Regions from separate parts of the Homo sapiens genome. Here all the other regions are linked to region 2. The links come from fine-mapping of genetic effects on gene expression. A gene starts in region 2. Each other region holds a variant in brackets. All regions are shown on one strand. Distances are between the middles of the regions. Region 1 overlaps KNL1 (kinetochore scaffold 1). Region 2 holds the start of DISP2 (dispatched RND transporter family member 2). Region 3 overlaps KNSTRN (kinetochore localized astrin (SPAG5) binding protein).

The links.
Region 1: its variant is fine-mapped to the expression of DISP2 in subcutaneous fat (GTEx, PIP 0.94).
Region 3: its variant is fine-mapped to the expression of DISP2 in fibroblasts (GENCORD, PIP 0.95).

What each region holds. Positions count from the first base shown.
Region 1 is chr15:40,664,215-40,666,944 of GRCh38, forward strand. It overlaps KNL1 (kinetochore scaffold 1), which reads left to right. Exons shown (of 26, transcript NM_144508.5): 26 at 1-128. Among named protein-coding and RNA genes, the nearest start is that of RAD51-AS1, 30 kb to the right of the region's middle. The variant C/T (reference allele first, on the strand shown) is at 1,228.
Region 2 is chr15:40,356,877-40,359,636 of GRCh38, forward strand. DISP2 (dispatched RND transporter family member 2) reads left to right here and starts at 1,343. Exons shown (of 8, transcript NM_033510.3): 1 at 1,343-1,564. The coding sequence starts at 1,446. RefSeq lists a silencer at 1,264-1,523.
Region 3 is chr15:40,390,966-40,393,725 of GRCh38, forward strand. KNSTRN (kinetochore localized astrin (SPAG5) binding protein) reads left to right here. Exons shown (of 9, transcript NM_033286.4): 7 at 528-589; 8 at 984-1,058; 9 at 2,504-2,760. The coding sequence ends at 2,632. Among named protein-coding and RNA genes, the nearest start is that of KNSTRN, 9.6 kb to the left of the region's middle. The variant G/GTT (reference allele first, on the strand shown) is at 1,221.

The DNA of each region.
Region 1 (2,730 bases), 310 kb after region 2:
ACTTAGTTATTTGTGTTTTTCTTTGTTCAAGGTATTGACTAGTTTCATAAATTTTTTGAAAGTTTTTCTTTCATTGGTTGGAAAGCAGATTACATTTTGCACTATTAAAATAAGTTTATTACTTTAAATCTTTTGTGAGTAGTGTTTCTTTATAAAGAATATTTTAGCATTTATCCAATAGACCTTTGAAGATATACCAAAGAAACCTTCCTCTGGAGACACCTACCTATTCAAAACTGAGATTAGGCCGAGTTCAAGCAGGGTGCTTCAGGCCAAGAATTCAAATCCAGCCTACACAACATAGCAAGACCCTATCTCTAAAAAATTTTTTTTTCTTGGCTGGGCATGGTGGCTCATGCCTGTAATGCCAACCCTTCGGGAGGCTGAAGTGGGCAGATCACCTGAGGTCGAAAGTTTGAGACCAACCTGACCAACATGGAGAAACCGTGTCTCTACTAAAAATACAAAATTAGCCAGTCATGGTGGCACATGCCTGTAATCCCAGCTACTTGGGAGGCTGATGCAGGAGAATTGCTTCAACCCGGGAGACAGAGGTTGCAGGGAGCCGAGATCGCACCATTGCACTCCAGCCTGGGCAACAAGAGTGAAACCCCCATCTAAAAATTAAAAAATAAAAATTTTTCTTGTTTTTGAGATGTGGTCTCACTATGTTGCCCAGGCTGGTCTCGGACTCCTGGGCTCAAGAGATCCTCCCATCTCAGCTTCCCAAATTGCTGGGATTATAGGTGTCGGTCACTGCACCCAGTTTGCTATTCTTTTTCTAACTTCTTGTGATGGTAGGTACCTAGCTCATTTATTTTCATTCTTTTTTTTTTGAGACGGAAGTCTTGCTGTGTCACCCAGGCTGGAGTGCAGTGGCCTATCTCGGCTCACCAAAACCTTCGCCTCCCAGGTTGAAGCGATTATCTTGCCTCAGCCTCCTGAGTAGCTAGGATTACAGGCGTGCACCTCCACACCCAGCTAATTTGTGTATTTTTGGTAGAGACAGGGTTTCACCATGTTGGCCAGGCTGGTTTCAAACTCCTGACCTCAGGTGATTCATCCACCTCGGCCTCCCAGAGTGCTGGGATTACAGGCATGAGCCACTGTGCCCAGCCTATTTTCATTCTTTTAACAAGTACTTATGATATATTTCTTTTCTTTTCTTTCTTTCTTTTTTTTTTTGAGGTAATCCATCTGCCTCTGTATCCCAAAGTGCAGGGATTA[C/T]AGGCGTGAGCCACCATGCCTGGCCCCATATATTTGTTTCTAAGTAATGTTGTTTATCACTCATTCTTCTCCTAATCTGTTTTTTTTTTTTTGTTTTTTTTTTTTTTTTTAATATTTATGTCTTTTTTTGTTTGTTTGTTTGAGAGGCCAAGTCTCACTATGTTGCCCAGGCTGGTCTCAAACTCCTGAGCTCAAATGATCTTCTCGCCTCAGCCTCCCAAAGGGCTGGAATTACAGGCCTGAGTCATTGTGCCCAGTCTCAAATATATATGTCTTTTTTGGTCAATAAGAAAGTGAGATTATTACTGTTTCTTAGAACATGACTTCATAACAGAGCTCAGCCCCAAAGATCCAGATCAGACTTGAAGAACAAGAGTTTGAAGGTGATTGCTCCACAAATAAAAAATACTTGTGGGGCAAGAGATTGATTCCAGCATTAATATGTTTGCTTCTAAAATTTTTTCTTTCTTTTTTTTAGACAGGGTCTCTCTCTGTCACTCAGGCTGGAGTGCAGTATCACGATCATGGCTTACTGCAGCCTTGACCTCTCTGGGCTCAAGCGATCCTACCATATCAGCCTCTCGAATGGCTGGGACTACAGATGCACACTACCACCCCCAGCTAATTTTTGTGGAGATGTGATTTCAACATGTTGCCCAAGATGGTCTCAAACTCCTGGCTCAAGTAATCCACCCACACTGGCCTCCTAAAGTGCTGGGATTACAGGTGTGAGCCACCACAGCTGGCCTAAAATTTTCTTCAGTTCTAAAGTTTGTGAAAAGCAACAGTAAGGCTGGGCACGGTGGCTCATGCCTGTAATCCCAGCACTTTGGGAGGCCGAGGTACAAAGATTTCATGATATATAAACTGATTCTGTCTAAAATCTGTTTTTATGCTAAACTTAGTATCACATATAATTATTTTTAAAAATTTTTAATCACCTTATGTTATCCTATACTAGATTTTATTCATTCTATCTAACTGTATTTTTGTGCTTCATCACTTGAGGTCGGGAGTTCAAGACCAGCCTGGCCAACATGGTGAAACCCCATCTCTACTAAAAATACAAAAATTAGCTGGACGTGTTGGCACATGCCTGTAATCCCAGCTACTTGGGAGGCTGAGGCAGGAGAATTGCTTGAACCTGGGAGGCGGAGGTTGCAGTGAGCTGAGATGGCGCCACTGCACTCCAGCCTGGGTGACAGAGTGAGACTCCATCTCCAAAAAAAAAGAAAAAGGAACGTAAATAACAAATCAGACTGAGCCTGGTAGGACCTATAGCTGAGATTAATTACACTCACAGCTGAAGAAGGTTTTTAGACTGAATGACAGAATAAATCCCAAGTGGCAAAAATATACATTTCACTCCTTTAAAAATATTTCACCAGAAATATTTAGGGAAAAAATCATGATGTAAGATATTTTAATCCCCAGGAAATGGCTGGGCGCAGTGGCTCACGCCTGTAATCCCAGCACTTTGGGAGGCCAAGGCGGGCGGATCAC
Region 2 (2,760 bases):
TTCTTCCAAGCCAGCTGAAGCCCCACCATCTCCAAGAAGCCTTCTCTAAGGCCTATTAGGAAGAAAGAGGTCCTTCCTTTTTGCATACTGTCCCCTTCTCAACCACCTCATGGGCCTCACCATATCTTGCCTATTGGCAGCAATTTATGGGCTGGCCCTTTATCTCTCCAACCAAACTATAAGCTATTCAGGGCAGACCCAACACTTCTACACCTCTAGATTCTTCCACCCCATTTCTTATGACCTGTGTCTTACACGGACTGGCATTGGCACACATTTTAGGGATACCTATAGTCCAAGTGTTCCTGACTCTCTCCTCAGCCCCATGTCTTCAACCAAGGCCTCTCCCTGCACAAGTAACCAGGCCCTGAACAGCCTGCTTGCTGTAAAACCCTTTCTGCCTAGTCAAATCCCACATCCAGGATCCTCTCCACTCCCAGCCCCCCAGGCTTCTCACACTGCCAATATCTATTCTAGTTCTAGACCCCTTAGCCAGGCCTGTCCACAGTCCATCATACCCAAATGTGCTCTACTCACAGCTACTCCCTGGTGGGGGAGGTGGCACTGGAGTCAGTGGCTATTGGGCACCTCCCAGTGCCCTGGAGTCAGTGGCTATTGGGCACCTCCCAGGCTGAGGTGGGGTGGGGGGGCAGCGGTGACTATAAAAAAGGATCTGGGATCACTCAATATACCCTTATAACAAACCTGCACATGTGCCCCTGAATCAAAAATTAACCTTAGCTTACTGTGATTTGTTTGCTTTATAAACCTTTTAAATTTTAAAAAAGAAAGAGAAGGAGCTGGGGATGATCTGAGCGCCTCTCTTCTTCCCCCACCTCCTTCACCAGACTGCGCACTTGAGTAACGGAGTCAGGGCTCCGCATCTAAGGGGTGCACACCCAGGTCCAAGTCGAAGTCCAGAAGGATGGGAAGAAAGACCCAACCTGATGCCTCGCCCCACTGGGGAGGGGAGGAGGGCGCTGAGCGAGCCGGGAACCTCGCAGGCCTGAAGCCGCCCGCCTCGACCCGGGGCGTCCAGCGTGGTGAAGTGCGGGCGTGGAGCTCGCCCTCTATCCGGCTGGAAGGGTCTGCGTTTTGATTTGTGAGGATCTCTGCATGTGTCGCGCTCTCTGGTTCCTTACGGGAAGGCCGAGGCCGCTAGGAAGGGTTGCACGGCCGGACTCCTAACAGCGGCTCTCTGGCCTGGCGGGAGCAGAGGGGCGCTCACATCCGCAGCCCCGGGATCTTAGAGACAGAGCGCTCCGCTCCGGCAGCGGCGCCGCGCCCATTGGCTGGGCTCCTCCTCGCCCCGCCCAGCGACCGGCCCGCTCAGAGCCTACGCATGCGCACGAGCACCCCGCCGCCGCTGCCGCCGCCACCGCCGCCGCCGCCGCCGCCGCCGCGGCTTCAGCACCAGCGCCCGGACAGCGGTGCCGCCCACGGGCATGGACGGTGACAGCAGCAGCAGCAGCGGCGGCAGCGGTCCGGCTCCCGGCCCGGGTCCGGAAGGGGAGCAACGGCCCGAGGGGGAGCCCTTGGCCCCAGACGGCGGCTCCCCGGACAGGTAGGGCGGACAGCTCCGCAGATCCGTATCACAGACCCTCCCAGACCCTCCCCGCCCCAGGTATCCCCAGTAGCCGCCATATGTTGCCCCATTCATTCCCCAGACCCTCCCGGAGCCCCTTCCCGGGGTCGCCAAGCTCCAGGCCCCCCTCGCCACGCCCTCATCCTGCCGGGTCAATTTCCTCGCTCCCTGACACCCCCTAGTGTCAGCCCCCATCGCCCTCCCCGCTTAGGGAACCTGCCCCACCCACGGCTCCTACCCCTCCTCTCAGGCCAGGACTCCCTGGCTCCTCCGGCCCCTCCTTCTAGGCCCTGCCCCTGCGTCTTCTCCGGAAGCCCCAAGCCCGCAGTAACCTCAGTCCGGGTTTCAGCGTGCCAGTGTGCATGAAGGTGTGCGTGAATCGCGGATGGGAGGCTCGCCAAGGCGGGTGTCCTGGGGAAGGCAGACATTCGGCAGGCACGTCAGGGACTGTCTTTGTCACCATCAGTCGCTTGCCTGCCCTGCATGACCCCCAGCTGTGCACGTGTGGGTTCCAGTCCCTGCATGTGGCAGCCACACTGGCTGGAGCCGCTAAGATGGGAAGGATTTGGTGCTCAGGCTGCTGGCCTGTACCACCCCTGGAGGAGCCCCATACTGGTGGGACAGGAGGGACACCTTCCTGCTGAGGGCCCAGATCTCAGCACCTCTCTTCTCCCTTCCTCCACCATATGTGTGAGGGAACAGCCCAGCTAGGTAGCAATATGGCGCAATTTCTGTGCCCTGCCTGGCTCTGCCGCCCCCAGAATCCCTCCTCTGACATGACACTGCCTCTTTCCTGCCTGGACTGAAATAAAAGGCATTCCTTGATAGCAATAGCAGAAGTGGACACATCGTCTCCAGAATACCCCAGTTAAAATGTACATTCTGTACCCCAGAGGGGGAGAAAGCCCCACAAGTAGAGAGAAATGCTTTCTTCCCTTTATTGTTAACACATTAGCCTGGATAGATTTAGCCACTCTTCAGTCTGAAAGTCACAAAGCCTTCAAGAAGGTGAGACACAGGATGGGTGTATTCACCAGTCCAGGGACCTGCCTGGGACTATGGCCTGATCAAAGATGGGGCAGTGACAGGACAGAGCGAGGACCTGGGGCCAGAAGCATCCCTAGAAGGGGCAGGAGAGTCATTTGCTGTCTCAGATATCTTGCCAAGGATCAGCC
Region 3 (2,760 bases), 34 kb after region 2:
TGTTTATTTTTTTGAGATGGGATCTCGCTATGTTGCCCAGGCTGGCCTCCAACTCCTGGGCTCAAGCAATCCTCCCAAATAGCTGGGACTACAGGTGTGCACCACCACATCCGACACCATAAATATTTTGTATGATTTTAGTTTATTACATGCATGTGATATTACCGAAAGTAATAATTTTTTAAGGCCTGAAAGGCTCTTAAAAATAGCTTTGTGAATTGTGAACAAAACCAAAAAAAATCCAACCTATACATTTCCTTTGGACAAATTGTCCACTGACCTAAGGAGAAAGTATACCGAATTTTTGGCCATATCAAAACCTAGATTGAAAGGAGATAAAATACAGTTTTGCAGGGCAGATATGGGTGACCCTGCCAAGGTGAAAACTTAGGAGAAAGTCCAGGATGAGACACTTAAGAGAAATTCCCCTCATGAATATTTCTGTACTTGTCCACGGAGGGTTTTTATTTTCTTTTGTTTAGGGTGTGTAGTTCCCTAAGTGAGATTGACTTTGTTGTATCCATCAGCTTTAGGCAGTGAGACCCTGGCATCACGACAAGAATCCACTACTGATCACATGGACTCTATGGTGAGGGCATGGGTGTGAAAGGGCGCAAGGGCTGAGTGACTGTGGGGCTCTGTAAATCTAAGAAGGTCTCTGCTATATATTCCATAAACTCCAAGAAACAGCCTTTGATTATCTGTGATGCTAGAAAAGAGAAATGGGATGTGTACTCAAAATAGCATATTTTACTTGAAAGGTAGCTTTGTGCTTACAAATATAAGTGAGTCTGAATTGAAAATTTAAAACACATAATAGGTAAACCTGTAGAGAGAGCTTTCTCGTTCTTCTGTTCTATACTTTATCAAATTTCTCTCCTGACTCCTTTGTTGAGAACTGTGTGGAAAGGATGTTAGCCATCATCTAATGCAAGTCTGGTTTTATATGAAGATTTGTTTACTACATTGTGCTTTCCTCTTAGTTGCTGTTAGAAACTTTGCAAGAGGAGCTGAAGCTTTTTAACGAAACAGCCAAAAAGCAGATGGAGGAGTTACAGGTGAGAGGCAGACATCACCCTGACCATTTCCTACCATGATAGGTAGATTTATAGTGGGGTCTTTTCTGTTTTTCTATTTATTTTTAATAAACTTTCTAAATAATTTTAGATTTATAGGAAAGTTACAAAGATAATACAGAAAATTTACCCTGATAGTAACGT[G/GTT]TTTTTTTTTTTCCAACTTTTAAGTTCAGGGGTACACGTACAGGGTGTGTAGGCTTGTTACACAGGTAAACGTGTGCCATGGTGGTTAGCTGCACAGATCATCCCATCACCTAGGTATTGAGCCCAGCATCCATTAGCTATTCTTCTTGATGCACTTCCTCCTCCACCCCCAATAGTAACATCTTACATTATCCTGGTACATTTGTCAAAACTAAGAAATCAGCCAGGCATGGTGGCTCACGCCTATAATCCCAGCACTTTGGGAGGCTGAGGTGGAAGGATTACTTGAAGCCAGGAGTTTGAGACCAGCCTGGGAAACATAACAAGACCCCATCTCTACAAAATAAAATTTAGAAAATAGCCAGGCGTGGTGGTACATACCTGTAGTCCCAGCTGCTCAGGAGGCTGAGGCAAGAAGACCACTTGGGCCCAGGAGGGCAAGGAGATAAAGTCTCACTGTTGTCCCCCAGGCTGGAGTGCAATGGCGTGATCTCGGCTCACTGCAACCTCCGCCTCCCGGGTTCAAGCGATTTTCTTGCCTCAGTCTCCCAAGTAGCTGGGATTACAGGCATTTGCGACCATGACCGGCTAATTTTTATATTTTTAGTAGAGACAGGGTTTCACTGTGTTGGCCAGGCTGGTTTCGAACTCCTGACCTCAGGTGATCTGCCCGCCTAGGCTTCCCAAAGTGCTGAGATTGCAGGTGTGAGCCACTGCACCCGGCAGGAAAAAAATTTTTTAAAAAACAGACCAACATCAGTACATTACTATTAACTATATTCCAAGTCTTCATTTGGATTTTAGCAGTTTTTTCCACTAATTTTTTTTTTTCTGTTACCGAGGCTTCTTGCAAATGTTCACATCACCAAGGCATGAGGCAATGTGTAACACAGTAGGTTGCTCAGAGTTGGGAATTGAGAACTATATGTAATCCATTCTATGGAAACTTGATAACTCAAGGAGAAGACCTGTAGTAAGCACAGATTCTTTGGTCTGGACTGTTTCAGATTGCTTGGATGAATCATGGGATATTGCACCAAATGTAGAGGATTTCATCGTTCCAGTTTAGATACAGGAGTCTAGTCCCTCTCTACTACTAGAGGGACAATTCCTAAAACCAGTGCATAGAAATAAAATCTAAAATAGAAGATACAGTCTGTTGATACTCCAGTGGTCTTCCTTAGTGGAATAGGAGCATAATGTTCTGATGTGGGAATTGTGTTTCCTGTTAGTCAAGAGTTTTGTGTATGTGTTGTTTTCTTTTGGAATGTCTTTCCATGCAGGCCTTAAAGGTAAAGCTGGAGATGAAAGAGGAAAGAGTCCGATTCCTAGAACAGCAAACCTTATGTAACAATCAAGTAAATGATTTAACAACAGCCCTTAAGGAAATGGAGCAGCTATTAGAAATGTAAGAAGAAGCAAGTGGCCAGATGGCTCCCTCTTGGGCATAAAATCTCAGAGGAAGCTACTTAGGACATCATCTTGGCCATGATCTTCTGGGACTCACCATCTCCAGAATGAAAACAATTTCTACAGTAGA